Linked DNA regions of Homo sapiens: region 2 is linked to region 1. A link means that fine-mapping ties the variant in region 1 to the expression of a gene that starts in the linked region. Tissue or cell type: monocytes. Region 1 holds a variant in brackets; the other region holds the start of a gene. All regions are shown on one strand. Distances are between the middles of the regions.

Region 1 (8,102 bases):
CAGGTCAGCCAGCCAGTGGGAACTTTATAAAATTTGAATCAAACTATGTTGTCCCTCTGCTTAGATTTTTTCAGTGACTCATTATTGTCTATAGAAGCAAATCCAAACTTCTTAGCCAGGAATACAAGGCTGTTGATAAGCTGACCTATGCCTACCTCTCAGAGCACAAAAAGAAAGCGAATAATAAAAATAAGAGTAAAATTTACTGAAAAAAGAGATGCTCAACAAAATAAAAAATTTATTCTTTGGAAAGACTAAAAAACAAAACAAATCTGAACAAGACTAATCCTGAAAAAAAAAAGCGAGAAGGTACAAATAAATATTAGGTATGAAAAAGGAGACATAACTACAGGTAAGTAGAGATTATTTTTAAATCCACAAGATAATGCTATGATCAATTTTATGTCAATAAATTATAAAATTAGAAGAAATGTACATTTTTCCAGAAAAAAATAAATTATCAACACTGGCTCAAGAAGAAATATAACACCTGAATAAGTGAATCAGTATTAAAGACATCAAATTGACAGTTTAAAAAAAATCCATGAAAAAGACAACAGGTCCAGCAAGTTTTACAGGAGAATTTTATCAGATATTTGAGGAGGAGCCCTTCTTATATAAACTTTTTCAAATAACTAAAAAGGAGGGGAATCTACCCATTTAATTTTATAGGTATAACCTTGATTCCAACAGTACATAAGACTAATATAAAAAAGGAAAAATTATAGGCCAATCTTACTTATGAATATATACGCAAGCATTTCAGATAAAAAATAGCAAACCAAATTCAGCATAATAAAATATATTTTTATCTAAACAAGATTTATCCCAGAAATGCAAAGATGGTTCAATATGAGAAAAAAAATCTATTAACAGATTAAAAAAGAAAAATCACAGATCATCTCAGCTGATGCTGAGCCTTCAATAAGAGAAAAAGCATTCAATAAGATTCAACAGCCAAACTAATTTTTAGAAACCCCTAGCAAACTAAGATAAATAGAAATTTCTTAACCTTATCTTATAAAAACATAAAGCAAACCTCATACTTAATGATAAAACTTTAGAAACTTTCCCACATCCCAAGGCAAGGATGTTTGTTATCACCTACTATTTGAAACCATACCAGATGTCCTAACCAACAGAGCAACACACACAAAAAAACAAGATATATAAATCTTGGAAAGGAAGATAATAAATTGTTATTTGCTAAAAACATACATTATCTCCACAGACAATCCAGGAAAGTCTACAAACAAAACTAATTAGAGAGTGTGATAAGTTTCCTGAATACAAGATTAACATACAAAACTTAATGCATATGGGCAATAATAAATTAGAAAAGGTAATGAACTCTTCATGATAGGAACAATAATTAAAAGCTAGCTCAGAATAAAATAAAATAAGATAATATAGTATTAGCTCAGACTGATGGAATAGAACAGAGAACCCAGATATAATATCTAAAGATATGTGACCCTTATGTGATAGAGGAGATATCATAAGTTAGTGGGGAAAAGCAAAGCTTTAGAAAACAGTGTAAGGATAAATGACTTTCCATATACGGAAAAATTCAATACTTACCTCACTCCATTCATAAAGATAAAATCTAGTTAGATTATTAACAATTTAAATACAGAAATAAAACTTTAAAACTGTATATATGTGTATATATATGAGTATATATGTGTATGTGATTTTGTGGAGAAAATTACAAAATATAAGTGAAGAACATAAAAGACTTAAATAAATGGCAACCTTTGCCATGTTTGCATGTGGGAAAACTCAATAGCTTAAAGATGGCAAACCTCACCAAGTAATTTTTTCCCAAGTAAAGCTTGCATTCATCTGCATTAAAATTATCTAGAGTGCTTGCTAAAAATTAGATACTTAGGCTCCATTTTAAGCCCATTGAATTAGAATGTATGAGGATGTGGCCCAGGAATCTGCATTTCAGAAAGCTCTCCAGGTGATTCTTTTGTGTACTAAATTTTGAGAATGATGCCTTATAAAAGTAGATCATAACGTGAGTTGCACATTAGAATCACTTGAAGTAGTTTTTAAAAACTTGGTTGCCCAGGCTACACCCCAGACCAATGAAATCAGATTTTCTAGGCAAGGCACCTATGCATCAGTCTTTTGAAAGTTCTCCACTGATTCCAATGTGTAGCCAAGGTTGAGGACTGCTGCCCTAGGTGAAGGTCCATGTAGAGTCAGGTCTGTAAAGTTTGCTGCCCTTCTCCGTTTGAACATTTACTTCTAGTGCTAACCTGGTAGGATTTGTACTTTTTTTTTTTTTTTTTGAGATGGACTCTCACTCTGTCACCCAGGCTGGAGGACAGTGGCATGATCTTGGCTCACTGCAACCTCCGCCTCCCAGGTTCAAGAAATTCTCCTGCCTCAGCCTCCTGAGTAGCTGGGATTACAGGCGCACCCCACCACGCCCGGCTAATTTTTTGTATTTTTAGTACAATTTTTTGTATTTTTAGAAACGGGGTTTCACCATGTTGGTCAGGCTTGTCTCAAACTCCTGACCTCGTGATCTGCCCGCCTCAGCCTCCTGATGTGCTGGGATTACAGGCGTGAGCCACCGCGCTTGACCAGGATTTGGACTTTAACTTGATTGAGGAAGACACAATTTTCTTACATTAAAATTATGACTCATTTATTTGGTATTCCCAGCTCCTTGTCTGGTACATGGCAGGGGCTTGGTGATCATTTTCTGAAAAAAATTCAACTAAATGAAATTGACTCTATCAATATGTAGAAAAATAAAATTTTCAACAAGCCCTAAAAAGTCCATTAGATTCAACAAATCTATATGGCACCTAGGCTGTGAGAGGTACAGAGTGAACAAAATACAGCCTTCTCTTCAGGTGTTCATGACGTGGTGGGGGAGACAGACATGGACAAGAGTATTTTACAATCAAGCAGACAATGATAAGGGTTCAGAAAGTAAAAAGGGAATAGAAGAACAATTGATTCAGAATGGCTGGCTCTAGGAAGGCATCGCTGTAGACTCAGTATCCAAGATTGGCCTCGAGGCATTGCTGGGATTGACCCAAAAGGAAATTAGGGAAATGGGCAGTTAGGGAATGGGGCAGTTCTGCACAGCATAAACTAAGTCAGATGGGTCTTCCTGTAACCTTCATACAAGGCTGGAGGGCAGACATTAAAGGCTCCTTTTCTTTCTAACTTCCTTGTTACTGCTCTTATTTTTCAAGTATTTCACCCTGGTTTATTAATTCTACCTCCTGGTGCCTCAGCTGGTTTCTTCTAGGAAAAGTTTCTCATTAGCATTTCTATAGGGAGCAGCTGCTACCCTATCTACCCCTATTATCTGATGGCCAGGGCAATGGGGTTGACTGGGAGAGGAATTTTAATCCCCTCCTTATGACTCATCTATTTTCTAATTGAGAACGTCAGGTCTAAAGTCACAAATGGCTTCCCAGTGAAACCCATCCTTAACATTAAAAATGGTAATAAAGACATGCTTCTCAGTTTTACAATATCATCTATGTAAAATGAATGTATTAAAAATTAATCAAACTCATGTTTGTGAATAATCCCAAAGCTATCCTGGA[T/C]ACTACTTGAATGCAAAAATCTCAGGCTGATATGAATGGATTGGGAATTAGATGAGCTATTGAATAGGGAAGGTTTCTCAAAACCATAATGTCAAAGGGTATCTAATGTTATTTATGACTGTAAATTGTAAAGTAAAACAATGAGCATGTATATGATTCTGAATTTTGAATGTATATTTTACATGATGGACTGTGTGTCCCTTTCTGTTTAAGCAGACTGTTCACATTGATGTCATGTGGCAGGTGTCATTTGTAAAGTCCATGAGACGAACCAGTCACCATGGTGTGAATACACCATAATTTATGTAGAATGGCAGAAGAAAAGGGTTTGTAAATCAAATTATCATTGAAGTGGAGCACAGCTTGGCTTCTAAGCCTTCTAAGGCAACATAAGGCCCATCTTATGTCAGTGGACATGGTACTTACTTAAATTCAGAAGATATCCTAGAAACATAGCAAGGAAAAGAATGTGAGACAATAGGGAAGGAAAATCAATGTTCTAGATAAGCTTATAATTGCCAACCATTTTTTCTTTACAGTGTATTTAATGTATTGAATAGCTTATTTCTTTATATCTACTTTCAATCAAAGTGAATTTCTCAATTATTTGTTAATTTTTATTCTGGAACAAAAAAAAAACCCGTTAAATTTCACATCAAATTTGTCATGCACTTAAATTGTTCATTGAAGAAATTGATGTTTCTTAGCAATAATCATTCCCTTAATATTTCAAAACCCTTTTGATTATATAGCAAAATAGTACTCCTGGCCCGAAAGCCATAGGTATAATTAAATTTTACAAAAGACCTAAATTTAAAAATTTTTTTGAGGTGTTCAAAGATTTTTTTGACAGGTTAATAGAATTGATAGGTGCTAAAAATAATCATTCTCACCAGCTCCGAGGGCATAGCCTTCCCCCACCAAATCCAGTCATTTCCAGTATGTGTGTAATGTGAAGCATGGCATGTGAAGCACGACATGCTTACTGCACAGCTAAGCTGTTGTTTTGAGGAAAAAGGCTATATGGAACAAGGTACAACCCCAAATCTGGAGTGCGTTATATTCAAAGGATGTGGTCATTCCTTGACTGACAGGCCACTCATCCATAAACAAAGCAAGTCCTGCCAACTTGAAATCATAAACTGAGTAGGATCACCCAAGGAGGCTTAAGAATCTGGAATCTCTCTTGATTGGCATTGACTGCATGGTGGTGAGAAGAGACAGCTCCTGCTAGTGGGTAGTAAGGTTCCACCTGCCACAGGGTGCTAGAATGAGAGTGGGAAGATGAAGAGGCCAAGCCAGTAATCTATGATGTTGGGCCAGACGTGGGCTTCTCAGGGTAGGAAGATCAAGAAATGAAGTAGGGTCTTGAAGCAAGCAAGCCATAGCAGAACTAGAAAACTACATCCTGCCTTTGTTTTTTATGTCTCCTGCTTATTTGTTTCCCCTCTTTTCTTTTGCTCCCCGCTTGGTAGCAGCATAAAAACATAGTGAACATTCTACCATCTCATGGCTATTCAAGGAAAAGGATTTATGTCCTTGTTTGACCAAGAGCTCAAAGGAAGTGCTGTACTCCTGGGTTCCCAGTGTGGTTGTTGTGATAGCAATAAACCAAGAGAGAGATGCCAAGTGGGAGGTGGAATTCAGGAAGATGAGAAATGCAGGGGTAGGAGTTGGGGGACAGATTTTCTCTTAACATGAAGGATGTCTGGATATGCTATTCTTTCCTCAGCCTATGAGAGAGTATTGGTAATGTTCACTGGAGAAGGATATTAGTCTAACCTATATACAGAGTCTTGGCAAAGGACTAACTCTCTAGTCCTCCCCGCCCCCCACACCCTCTTGCAGGAAGGAGGCAGCAGAAAGCTGTGGCATTGATAAAGGACCCCATAAGCTGCATTTTGAACACCTCTAGCTCAATTACTTTCATACAGATCTTCCCCGAGAGACCCCAAATGCAATGTTGCATGTCCAGAGTCAACTGTGTTCTGTTAGCTAATTGATGTTGGTTGAAACATAAGGGGAGAATTGAAAGCTAAGCCTTCAGAAATATATACCGGATGGATGAAGGGCAAGAAAGCAGACTGGAATGGCTGAAGCTGCAGCAGAGGGAAAATTCTAGAAGGAAAGAGAGAGAGAGATTTTCATGCTTGAAAGCATTCATTTGCAAGGAATTGAGTGTGCTGGAGAAAGGGGTTTTTGGTGGCAAGAGAATGAGAGACATCTGGAGAACATGTAGGGAAAGGAGAGAGAAAGAAGATGCCTCAATAGCAGAGAAGGCTGGAGGCACCTAGGAAGTAGGATCATAAGGTATCATGTGGAAGGTAGGAATGGAACCAAGATGTACTAATTACCACTATGTGCTAGGCACGAGCTGTTCTCCTGATTATCTCATTTAATCCTCACAATGTCCGGCACACTGCCTGGCATATAGTAGGCACTCAAAAATATGTTGAATATTTAATATTAACTAAATAAAAATAAAATGTTTAATATTAAATCAATAAAAGTGTGAACAATCCTAAGAGATGTCTATTACCAATTACATCTTACAGATAAGAACATGAGGCCCAGAAAGGTTAGGAAACTTGCCCAATATGTCACAGCTAGGGAGAGGTGGAAGGACAATGACTTCAAAGTTCCAGCGGTGGAAGGTGGGGGGTAATTTGTAAAGATCCTGTGGGTAATCTAGAAAAAGGTATGGTGCTTGGGTGTTGCCCAGAGACTGAGAAAGGGAGGAAAGAATGAAGGGCCAAGGGAACTGGGCTAGGGAGGAGGGCGAGAGGCCACTTGGAAAGAATTCTTCTTCTGGAAGAATGGGGACCCTGCAAAGGGCAACATCCAGGCTAACGCAGCAGGTGAGTTGGATGGGGGCACGACGGAAGCACAGCCTCTGCTGACATTGCAAAGGGTCTCTGTGGGAAGGCAGGGATCTGAGGTGGGAGGGATGGAGAAAAGGGCTACAGCGGTAAAGTGAAAGAGCCAGGCAGGCTGAGATGGAATATACTAACAGCTTGCGCATGGGACAGGGCAGAAGAGAAGGCTTCGACAGGAGGTGGCCTGGGAGGCGGCTGGGGAGAGGGTGTGGCCTGGGACTGGAGGGAGGCTGCACGCTAGGCCTGCGCTGGGGATCCTGGGCCCCGGGCAGCCCGCGGGGAGGGTCTGCGTGGTGACTCCCCCGCGCTAGCAGCGGCCGCGTCTCACCTGTAGGAGCTGCTCACTGCACTCGCCACCTCCTCGCGGATTTGCCGGTTGAGGGCGTCCGCCGCGGCGCGCCCCCTGCCAGCCTCGGGGCCGGTGGCCTGGACCTGGGCCTGGGCCGCGGGCAGCGGCGTCTGCTCGTGCCCCAGGCCCTCGGCGCGGCGCACAATCCAGGCAGGCCCGGCCTTCCTGCGCGTGTCGCGCTCGTCCGCCCCGGACGCCTTTCCGGCCGCCAGGCCACCCGCTCCGCCGGGGGCCGCCTCCTGCTCCCGGGCCTCAGCGGCGGCCTGCACTGGCCAGCGCTCCTGGCTCTGCGGCCGGCGCTTGGGCGCCCCGAGAATGGGCGCCGACGCCTGGGAGGCCGCAGAGATCTGCACGGGCTTGGGGATCCACGGGTGGTCCCCGCGGCGCGGCAGCGGCCAGGCGCGGAAGTCCTTCTGGTACTGGGTCTCGCGCTCGAAGGGAGCGTCGGAGGGCTGGTATTCGCTGCGCGGCCGGCAGCTGGGCTCGGGCCGCTGCACCTTCCAGGCTCGGTAATCCTGCCGCATCACCGAGTCCGCGGGGCCGGAGGTGGAGCCGGAGCCCAGGCCCGGGCCCGGCCCGCTCCGGCCGGGGCCCGCCGCCGGCTCGCGCTCGCCGGTAGGCCCAGGCGCTGGCCCCGTTGCCCGGGCAACTGCATCCAACTCGCCCTGGGCTGGCTGCGTCTCTATGGCAACCGCGCGCGCCGAGGGGGGCGCGAGCGCCGGCTGCGCCTGCTGCTGCGGCGGCGGTGGCTGCGGCGGGGCGCCCGGGTGCTCGGTGGCCTCCGAGTACTTGGTGAAAACCAGCGGCACAGCGATGTCCGCTTTGTCCAACTGGTTCCAGAAGCGGGCGATGCAGCAGGCCCTCGTGATGCACGGCCACGCCATGATGCTAGCTGAAAAGCCGGCCTCCTCTTTCTTCTTGTGGTTCTAAAGCAAGTCTCTATAATCTTCCTTCAGCCTCCGATCCTGACCGGCCAATGTGGTTCCCACCGTTTTCTACCCCCGATCAGCCGGAGCTAGTTCGCCCTCCTCCCTCAGCGAGCACCCGGGGAGAGCTGTCCTAGGAGAGTCTGTAGAGTCCCTCGATTACCGGTCGCAAACGCCTTTGGGAGCGCAGTCTGCTGCGAGCGCCGAAGGGTGAGACGCACGGCGTTCCCGAGTCCCCGGCGAGGGTGTCTGGGACGCGCCCCTCCCTGCGGCTGCGGCGGCGCACAGACCTCGGTCGAGCGAGGCGACGTGAGGAGAGGTGGCTACAGGCTTAAGCCATGGCGCAGAGGAGGGGCCGGGCGGTGTGGCC
Region 2 (8,102 bases), 140 kb before region 1:
CTTGGTGCCTAGGGAGGTCAGACAATGGGCCCGAGGGAATGGACACCAGCTCCAGGCACCACAGCCCTGCCAGCAGGAAGCCAAGGGAGGGGGTAAGAATCCAGAGCCCCTTGCCGGTGTCCCCAAGCAGACTGATTCTAGAGGCTATGAGACTAGGGGAGTGTGACCCACACAGCAGCCTGAGCTGAGCAAATTCAGGTCTCTGAGCCTGCCCTGCAACCATATCCTGCGTTCTAATCGAAGACAAGTCTGAGAATTTCCCCAGACTTCCTGGTCAAACTTCAAGCTTCCTTTTCTTCATAGGGATGGAAACGGATATTTGGCCAGGCACTGCATCTTTGTAGCTCATTTAATCCTCGCAACAACCTGCTAAAGGAGGTATTCTAATTTTATAGGCTCAGAGGGATGAAGTGATTTGCTCAGTGCCACTCAGCTAGTGGGAGGCACAGTAGACTCACGCCCACCTGGTCTGTCTGATTTACCACTATCTGGGATTCACCAGTTACTGTGGCTCGAGGCTGCCGCTTAGCCCGTCTGGGTAACTTCCAGGGCACCTGGTATGCAGCTGGCACTCAAACAGTTCTACAAGCAAACTCAAAGGCCCTGGGGAAGTGGTTTTACCTCTCTGAGCTTCAGTTGCCCACACGAGACTGGGCCATTAATAACCTCCCCAGTCTTGGCAAGTACAACATGCCCCTTAGCACTTGACAGCCAGATGTGATGGCCCCACTAACTGAGCAGGTAACACACAGCCTGCCATAACCTATTTTAAAGTGGCACTTGGAACCATGGATGCATCAAGAGGTCACAAGTGACTCTGCAACCCTCCTCTGCTTCACTCTAGGTTCCAGGCTCTCTCCACGTCATGAAAGGAGATCACAGGTGTGAAATTATTTCATCAAAGAGCTTTGTTTAGACATAGAGATTATTGCGAGGATTTGAAGCCCCAGACAGAGGTCTGGGGTAGAGGGAATCCCAAGCCCCTCAGTCACCTTGTCTTTTGGGATCCCCTAACCCTTCCACCCCCAGGGATTGAGCTTCAGACTTCCACAGACCTCTCACCACGCTCCTCCACCTTCCAGGGGCTTTCCAAGGTGGTTTCCCCTTGACTCCAGGGAGTTGGGCATCTCTAGGGTTAACTAGGCCTAGCCAAGGCCACAGGGCCCAGACCAAGGCCATATCCCCTCCCCGTCCCCACACAGAATAAGAGCCCACAGAGTCCATGCCAAGGGCTCTTTCACAACACCCCTCTCCCTACATGCCTTGGGGGCAGCAGAAGCATCCCCTGCCTGGGAATAAAGACACCTGGGACTGTGCCCCAGCCCTGGGAGCCCCCAGCCTTGAGACCTTGAGCAGGTCCCTTCCTTCCTGGGCAGAGGTATCCTGCAGGTTCCCCTGCCCAGAAGAAAATGAGGTTGGACCTTCCATTTGGGCCAAAGGCAATGCGGTTGCAGGCATTCCTCGGGGCCCCAGCAACCAACCACACTAATTCTCACCACAGCCTCATACATGGTCGCCCAGATCTCACATCAGCGATAGGGAAAGCCCCAGCCACCTATCCAGAAGATCCTAACTGGGGAGGAGTGTGCATACCTTGAAGGATGCTCAGGAAGGTTTTCTCAAGTCTACTTGTGGCTCAAGGACTCACTGGCTTTAGGATCGGACAACTGGCACTCCCTTCGGGTGGGCCTCAGTGTCCCCATTAGTAATGTGAGGGAGGTGAGTCACGTGAGCCACATCTCCAGCCACCCCAGAGGGGCTACATCTCCAGCTCTGACAGACCCTTACTTGGGGATCTCTGCAGTGAATTCACCAACAGATAAGCACGTCTCAGGACCTCCAGAGTGTCTTAGAGACCCTGGAGTCTGACACACAAGGGCCAGGAGCTGCTGCTCTCACATCCTGGGCCCACAGGGAGAGAAGCTTTGGAACTGGGAAGCTTCCCACCTCTACCCTCAACTCTGAGTCACCTTTCCTCGCGGGTGACATGGCCAGGGAGCGGGAGGCAAGAAGAAGCCACTTCCTCAGCTTTAGCATCAGCGCTCAAGTGCTCTGCCTCTTCCCCCTCTATCCTCTCCCGCTTCCCCAGTCTCCTCCCCGCAGTGAAAGGAGGTCACTCAGCCCCGTTAAGCCTCAGTTTCTCCATCTGCAAGCGCCGATAATAATACACAACACCTATTTCAGGAGTAGCAGTGAGGCTTAGGCGGGGCGGGGCGGGGCAGGGCGCGAACCCGCACACAATGGGCGCTCAATAAGTACCCGTTTTCTTTCTTTCCCCTCCCCTTCCCGCGCCCCCTCCCAGCCAGTTCCAGCCTCTGCTTGTTTCCCCTGACACTCCCTCCGCTGGCCCCCGCGCTGCCGCGATGGGGTCGGGGACCGCTCCTGCCGCGCATCCGGGGCTCTCACCTGCAGCCTTGGCTCTCGCAGGCCGCCGGGACAGAAGGGGACCCCTGTGTTATCTTCGGGGCAGGCGCTGAACCCCTCACCTGAGGCGGGACGAAGGTGACAGCCTGGGCTCGCGGCACCAGCCCGGCGGTTCGGTCCGACTGTCCTGCCCGCCTAGGACCCCTCACCGAGCGCACGACCCGGCCAGGGCTTCCCGGGCGCTCGCGCTGTTCCAAGCTGTTCCAACTGAAGGTTGGGGTCTCGTGAAGCCAGAGGCTGGGGGGGTCCGGGGTCCCGTGCACCGGAGGCGAGGGCCTGGGGCCACACTGCGCTAGCCCTGGAGCTGGGGTTCCGACCCTCACTGACGGAAAGGCGCGGAGCGACCCTGCAACCACGGACCGGTACGGCGGCGTTAGGAGCGTCCCGTCCCGGCGCAGCGGGTCAGGGCCGGGGCTCCGCGCGTCCCGGCCGCACGCCCCGAACCGCGGGGCTGGGACGGGCAGGGCAGGGCAGGCGCCGGCGGGGAGGCGCGGCGGCCGGAGCCCCGCGGGGAAGTCTTTCCAGGTCCCGACTCGGCTCTCTCTGCAAAACGGGGCGAACCTCGGCGCGGCGGCCGACTCCCGAGCTCCCGGCCGCGGCTCCACTTCCTCCTCTTCCCCTGCTCCCTCGCCGCTCGCTCAGCGCCGCGCCGCTGCCACCTCCGCTGTCATCCCCGCCACCCACCCCCACCGGAGCCGCAGCCCGAGCTCAGCCGAAACAGCGCCGCCCAGCGCCCCAGCGCCAGCCTGCGCGGCCCCGCCCGGACGGGGCGGAGTCAGCAGAGACCCCGCCCCCGGCCGGCTGCGGGCAGGGGCGGGGTGCGCGCCCTCTCCCCTTCCCGGGCCTCGCGCGTGGGGCCGCAGGAGCCAATCCGAGGGTGGGAGCGGAGCGGCGCCCTGCGGAAAGCGGATTCTACCTCGGAGAGGGCGGGGCGGACAATGGAGAGGTGCGGCTGCAAGAGGACAATGGCGGGGCTGGGGGTTCGGAACGGGCCGAATCGGGGAGGGGGTTGGCCTCGGGACCCGGAAGGAGGGAGAGGCGAGAGGGCTGGCTTGCCTGGGACGGGGGCATGGGGACTGCTGTGCGGGGATTGCGGGGGTCACGGGGAAGGAGCAGGGGCCAGTGTAGGAAAAGAAGCCGGGGCGAGGCAAGGTGGAGGATATCCGGGGTCAGGGGTCCCAGGGACGCTGGAGCGAGCCCTCCTGAGTGGTGGGATGCCACCGACACCTTGCTTCTCCCTAGCTTCTAGTGCTCGGCGCTCAGAGGTGAGAGTTGGGCTGGGAAGTGTTCAGATTTCAGGAAACGGTGAAAAATAAGTTTTTGGAAATGAGCGAATTTGTCTTCCACAAGCCTCCCTTCCCTGCGCCCATCCCCGAGGAGGAGCGTCGTGGTCAATTTTAAAAATACGAACTCAAGAGCAGAGTTGTGTGAGGACACACACTTCGAATCGTGATGCATCTGCAGTCCGCTCCCGCCCCTTCCCACCCCGCGCGTTGGGTGCAGGAGCCGTCTTTATTTTCTATTTCATTTTATTTTGAGACAGGGTCCCGCTCTGTGGCCCAGGCTGGAGTGCAGTGGCACTATCACGGCTCACTGCAGCCTCGAACTTCCAGGCTAAAGAGATCCTCCCACCTGTGCCTCCGGAGTAGCTGTGACTACAGGCGTGCACCACCACATCTGGCTAATTTTTAAATTTTTTGTAGAGACAGGGTCTCCCTATGTTTTCCAGGCTGGTCTCGATCTCCTGGGTTCCGGCGATCCTCCTGCCTCGACCTCCCAAAGTGCTGAGATTATAGGTGTGAGCCCTGTGCTTGGCCAAGGAGCCGTCTTCAGTGTGTGCACAGGACCAGGCGCAGAGAAGGTGTTGGAGGGAACTGATGTATGAATGAAAGTTGAATGTGTGCCGCGGGGGAGTGGGGTAGGGACCATGTGAAAGCCGCTAACTGGCCTGGGGAGCTAAGGGATGTTGGTGGCACAGTACAGTCTCTTTGTAAACCTCACACCAACCTTATGTTGTGATAGGTACCCCATTTCACAGATGAGGACTCAGCACAGAGAGGCTAAGTGACGTTCCCGAGACCACACAGCTGGCACAGAGTTCTATCCACCCATCATTATCAAATTCTAGGGTAAAGCTGTGTGGCTTTAACAGGTTACTCTCCCTCTCTGAGCCTCTGTTTCCTCATCTATAAAAGAAGAATAAAGGTGCTACTTGGCAGGGAACCAGGTGAGGGACTGGGCAGGCAGCAGGCTTCAGAGGGTGAAGCATGGGCATTCCCTGCAAAAGAAATGGCATCAGACTATGGCTGAGAGACTGGTTGGAAGAACAAAGAAGAGGGTGAGCTGGAGGCTGAAGTTCAGGCTGCGGACTTGAGGGTGCCCTGTCTTCTTCAGGCCCAGGGGTTGGGAGTAGGCAAGTTGGGCCCAGGAAGTTGGGACTGGTCTCTGGAGCCTGAGGGCTGGGAGAAGGCAGTTTTGCCTTTACTTGTTGAACTTGACGCTAAGAAACCTTGTGGCCCTTCCCTCTGTCCAGAGCCCTCTCTGGCTCCCGGTTGCCAGCATGACCAAGCCCTACATCCCTAGCCTGGCGTTCCAGCCCCTTTGTTATTGCTCTCTGCCTGCTGACTCCACCAGCCTCATCTCCCCATTGCTTACTTCCCTCTCTACTTGCGCCAACTTCTCTCAGCTCCATCAGCAAGCAGGATGCATTCTGTCTCCATGCAGTTGTCTCCTCCATGTGTTGCTTTGCTGTTCCCCTTCTCTCTGGAGTTAATTCTCATTTCTCTGCTGGGCTGAAGGGCAGAACCTCTAGGCCAAATGCTCATCTGTTCTCTTCACTGCTGTATCCCCAGAGCCTAGCACGGAGCCTGGCACATAGTAGGTGCCAAGTAAACAATTGTTGAATAAATGACCCATCTCTCATGAGATTTATCAAGATTTATCTCCACCAAGATTTATCACCACCTCCGAGAAGCCTTCCTGAACTCCCCCAGGCTGCCTGCCTTTGGTCTGGGCTCCCTCAGCTTGAAGGTTCTGTAATGATTGATTTCCATGTCTGGTTTCCCTCCCACCCGCCACCATCCAGCCTGGTACATGGCCTGCCCTTGTGAGATCTCGGCACTGGGAGATGAATGAGGCTCTCAGAGAGTTCTCTGGCTGCCCCTGCTGCGAGAGCCTCCTTAGCTGGGTCAGATGAGCAGGATGTCAGAATAAAAGGAGATTTTCAGAACAGACCCTCCATGACCCCTGAGGCGCTGGGGGTGTGTGAGGGGGAGGCATGCCCAAGGTCGTCAGGAGGTGACTAGCAAACAGGTCTCAAGACACCCACATTTGCCCTCTGGCCACTCTTCCAAAGGGGAGGGAGTCTTGTGAGCTGGGGAATCTGGCCTTTTGGTGGCCAAGGAGTTCCATGAAGCATGACAGAGGTGGTCATGGTGGCTGGTCTGGGCGGTGGTCGAGGGTGAGGCTACACGGAAACATTAGCCTTTTCTGCCTGATGCCCTACTTCTCCCAAGAACCTTCTACCTTCCTTACATTCTTCTCACCGGAGGCAGCAGCTTCAGCTTCGGGCCCCAGGGCTGTTAAACGCAGCTCCTCCCATTCTTATGGCAGATAGACATTCACTTTCACGTCTACATTTATATTAGTATTTTGCAGTTTTTCTTAAACAGGGCCACTGAATTGTATGAGGCTCCACACCCCTGGAGATCTACTTCCAACAAATCCTTCCACTGCGTCCATATATGCAGGTCCTGTGTGAGGCGTTGGCAGGGACGCTCTGCCCTCCTGCAGCTCCCTGTCTGGTGGGGTGATTGGGCTCCACTGAGCTCATTGAGCCCTCAAAATGCTTCATGCCTTCCTACCCCTCTGCCTCCGTCCCTGCCAGCCTGGAGTCCTTTCCCTGTCCCTCCTGCCTGCATGTGTCCCGCTTGCCTAGTGGATTTTCTCCATCCTTCAAGGCCCTTCTCACAAGCTGATGCCTCTGAGAACCCTGCCCACTTCTCCCAGTGACAAGCACAGCCTCTTCCTTTGGAGCCTGTGGCACCGAAGGCCCTTTGCCTCTTCTGATGCCTTTGGATCTGGGCTGCTGTTGATGGGTCAATTTTCCCACCAGATTATGAGCTTTTGGAGGGCAAGGGGTGGAGTCTGATTTCTCGCTGCCCGAGTCCCTCATTCACCAATGTTTCCTGAGTTGGACCAAGTCCTATACCAAACATTGGGTATCCAGGGATGGGACAATCAGATGAGAACCTGCCCTCATCATCGAGGAGCCCCCAGTCCCAGAGCTGTCTGCATGGAAATGTGTACCAAGTGCTTTCTGAACAGAGGAGGCTGCCTGATTCAGCTGGAGGAGGGCAAGCTGGGTCAAGGGCAGCTTCACAGGGAGGGTGACACTTGGGTATTTAAGAAGCAGAACTTATCAAGATAAGGAGGGAAGCGTCTTCTGGGCAGACGGAACATTGAGCGCAAAGGCATGAAAGTGGGAATGGGCAGGTGGAGGGTGAGAAGTTAGTGTATTTAGGGCAACAGAAATGACGGAGGGAGAAGTGGGTTGCACAACAGAGCAGTTAGAGCACAGACTCTGGAGCCACATGGCCTAGGTTCGAATCCTGACACTACCAAGTGCTAGCTCTGTTGTTACTCAGTGCCTCAGTTTCCTTATCTGTAGAGTGGGGATAATCCCAGTACTTACTTTGTAGGATATTTATAAGGATTAAGTGAGTTAATTTTTGTAAGGCACCTAGGGTAGTGTTGATGACACACGTAAGTTCCTAGTGAGTGTTAGGTAAATGAGGGGGAGCCGGAGAGGCCATGATAGGTGGGGTTCATGTTTGGAATTTATCTGGAGGACATTGGAGCATTAGCAAGGAGGGAGTGTGAAGGGGAGTGGGAAGCTTGGCTTGGACCCAGCCTGCTCTGCCCACTCACGCACATCCAGAGGGCATCCCTGGGACCCCCACCTGCCTGCCCCTCCTGCTCTCTGGTCTTCCACTGCCCTCAGTGGCCCTGTGGCCTCAACTAACCTCAGCTGATGTATAACAGGGCTGTAGGAGCTGGGGCCACACCTACCCCAGTACACCTGGGGGAAACTTTATGTTCCAGTTTATTGCCAAAGGAGGTCAAGTAGGGGTCCCGAGGGGATCCGGGACACATGTGCAGGGTGAGCATCTGAGCTGTAGCCTGGCTTAACGCATGGTGGATTTGGTAAGAGTGTGTATGTGGAATGGGGAGTGGAGAGGGGCTGGAGGCACTTGCCTGGCCTGGAGAGCTGGTTGGATGTAGGGCACTGTGGGCTGTGATGCTGTGGGCTTGGGAGCCAGGTGCACATCCTGGCCCAGTCACCTTCCCTCTCTGTGCCTGAGATTCCTGTGGGTAAAAGGGAGATGAAAATAGTAGCTCCTTCAGGCCGGTTAGCTCAGTTGGGAAAAAAAAGAAAAAGAAAATAGTGGCTACTTCAAAGGTGGTAAGGATGAAAAGATCAAATGTTCAGTCAGTGAGGCCTGAGGTACATGGTGTATATCTGGGAGACCAAAATCAATTCTGTAGTACCAAGGCCGAAAGGTCAAGAGAGACTGTGGCTGGAGAGCCAGGCAGAGGGACGTGCCACACAAGGTCTTAGTCAAGAGTTGGCCTCTGTGCTGAGGGTGGAGGGGAGCCATGGGAGGGTTTCACAGGGA

The links. PIP is the estimated chance that this variant, and not a neighbour inherited with it, causes the effect.
Region 2: GDPD5 starts here. The variant in region 1 is fine-mapped to the expression of GDPD5 in monocytes (BLUEPRINT, PIP 0.90).

What each region holds. Positions count from the first base shown.
Region 1 is chr11:75,660,680-75,668,781 of GRCh38, forward strand. MAP6 (microtubule associated protein 6) reads right to left here. Exons shown (of 4, transcript NM_033063.2): 1 at 6,786-8,102. The coding sequence starts at 7,690. Among named protein-coding and RNA genes, the nearest start is that of MAP6, 4.3 kb to the right of the region's middle. The variant T/C (reference allele first, on the strand shown) is at 3,582.
Region 2 is chr11:75,522,804-75,530,905 of GRCh38, forward strand. It overlaps GDPD5 (glycerophosphodiester phosphodiesterase domain containing 5), which reads right to left and starts at 3,138. Exons shown (of 17, transcript NM_030792.8): 1 at 2,407-3,138. RefSeq lists enhancers at 512-561, 2,489-2,989 and silencers at 2,836-3,355, 3,406-3,465.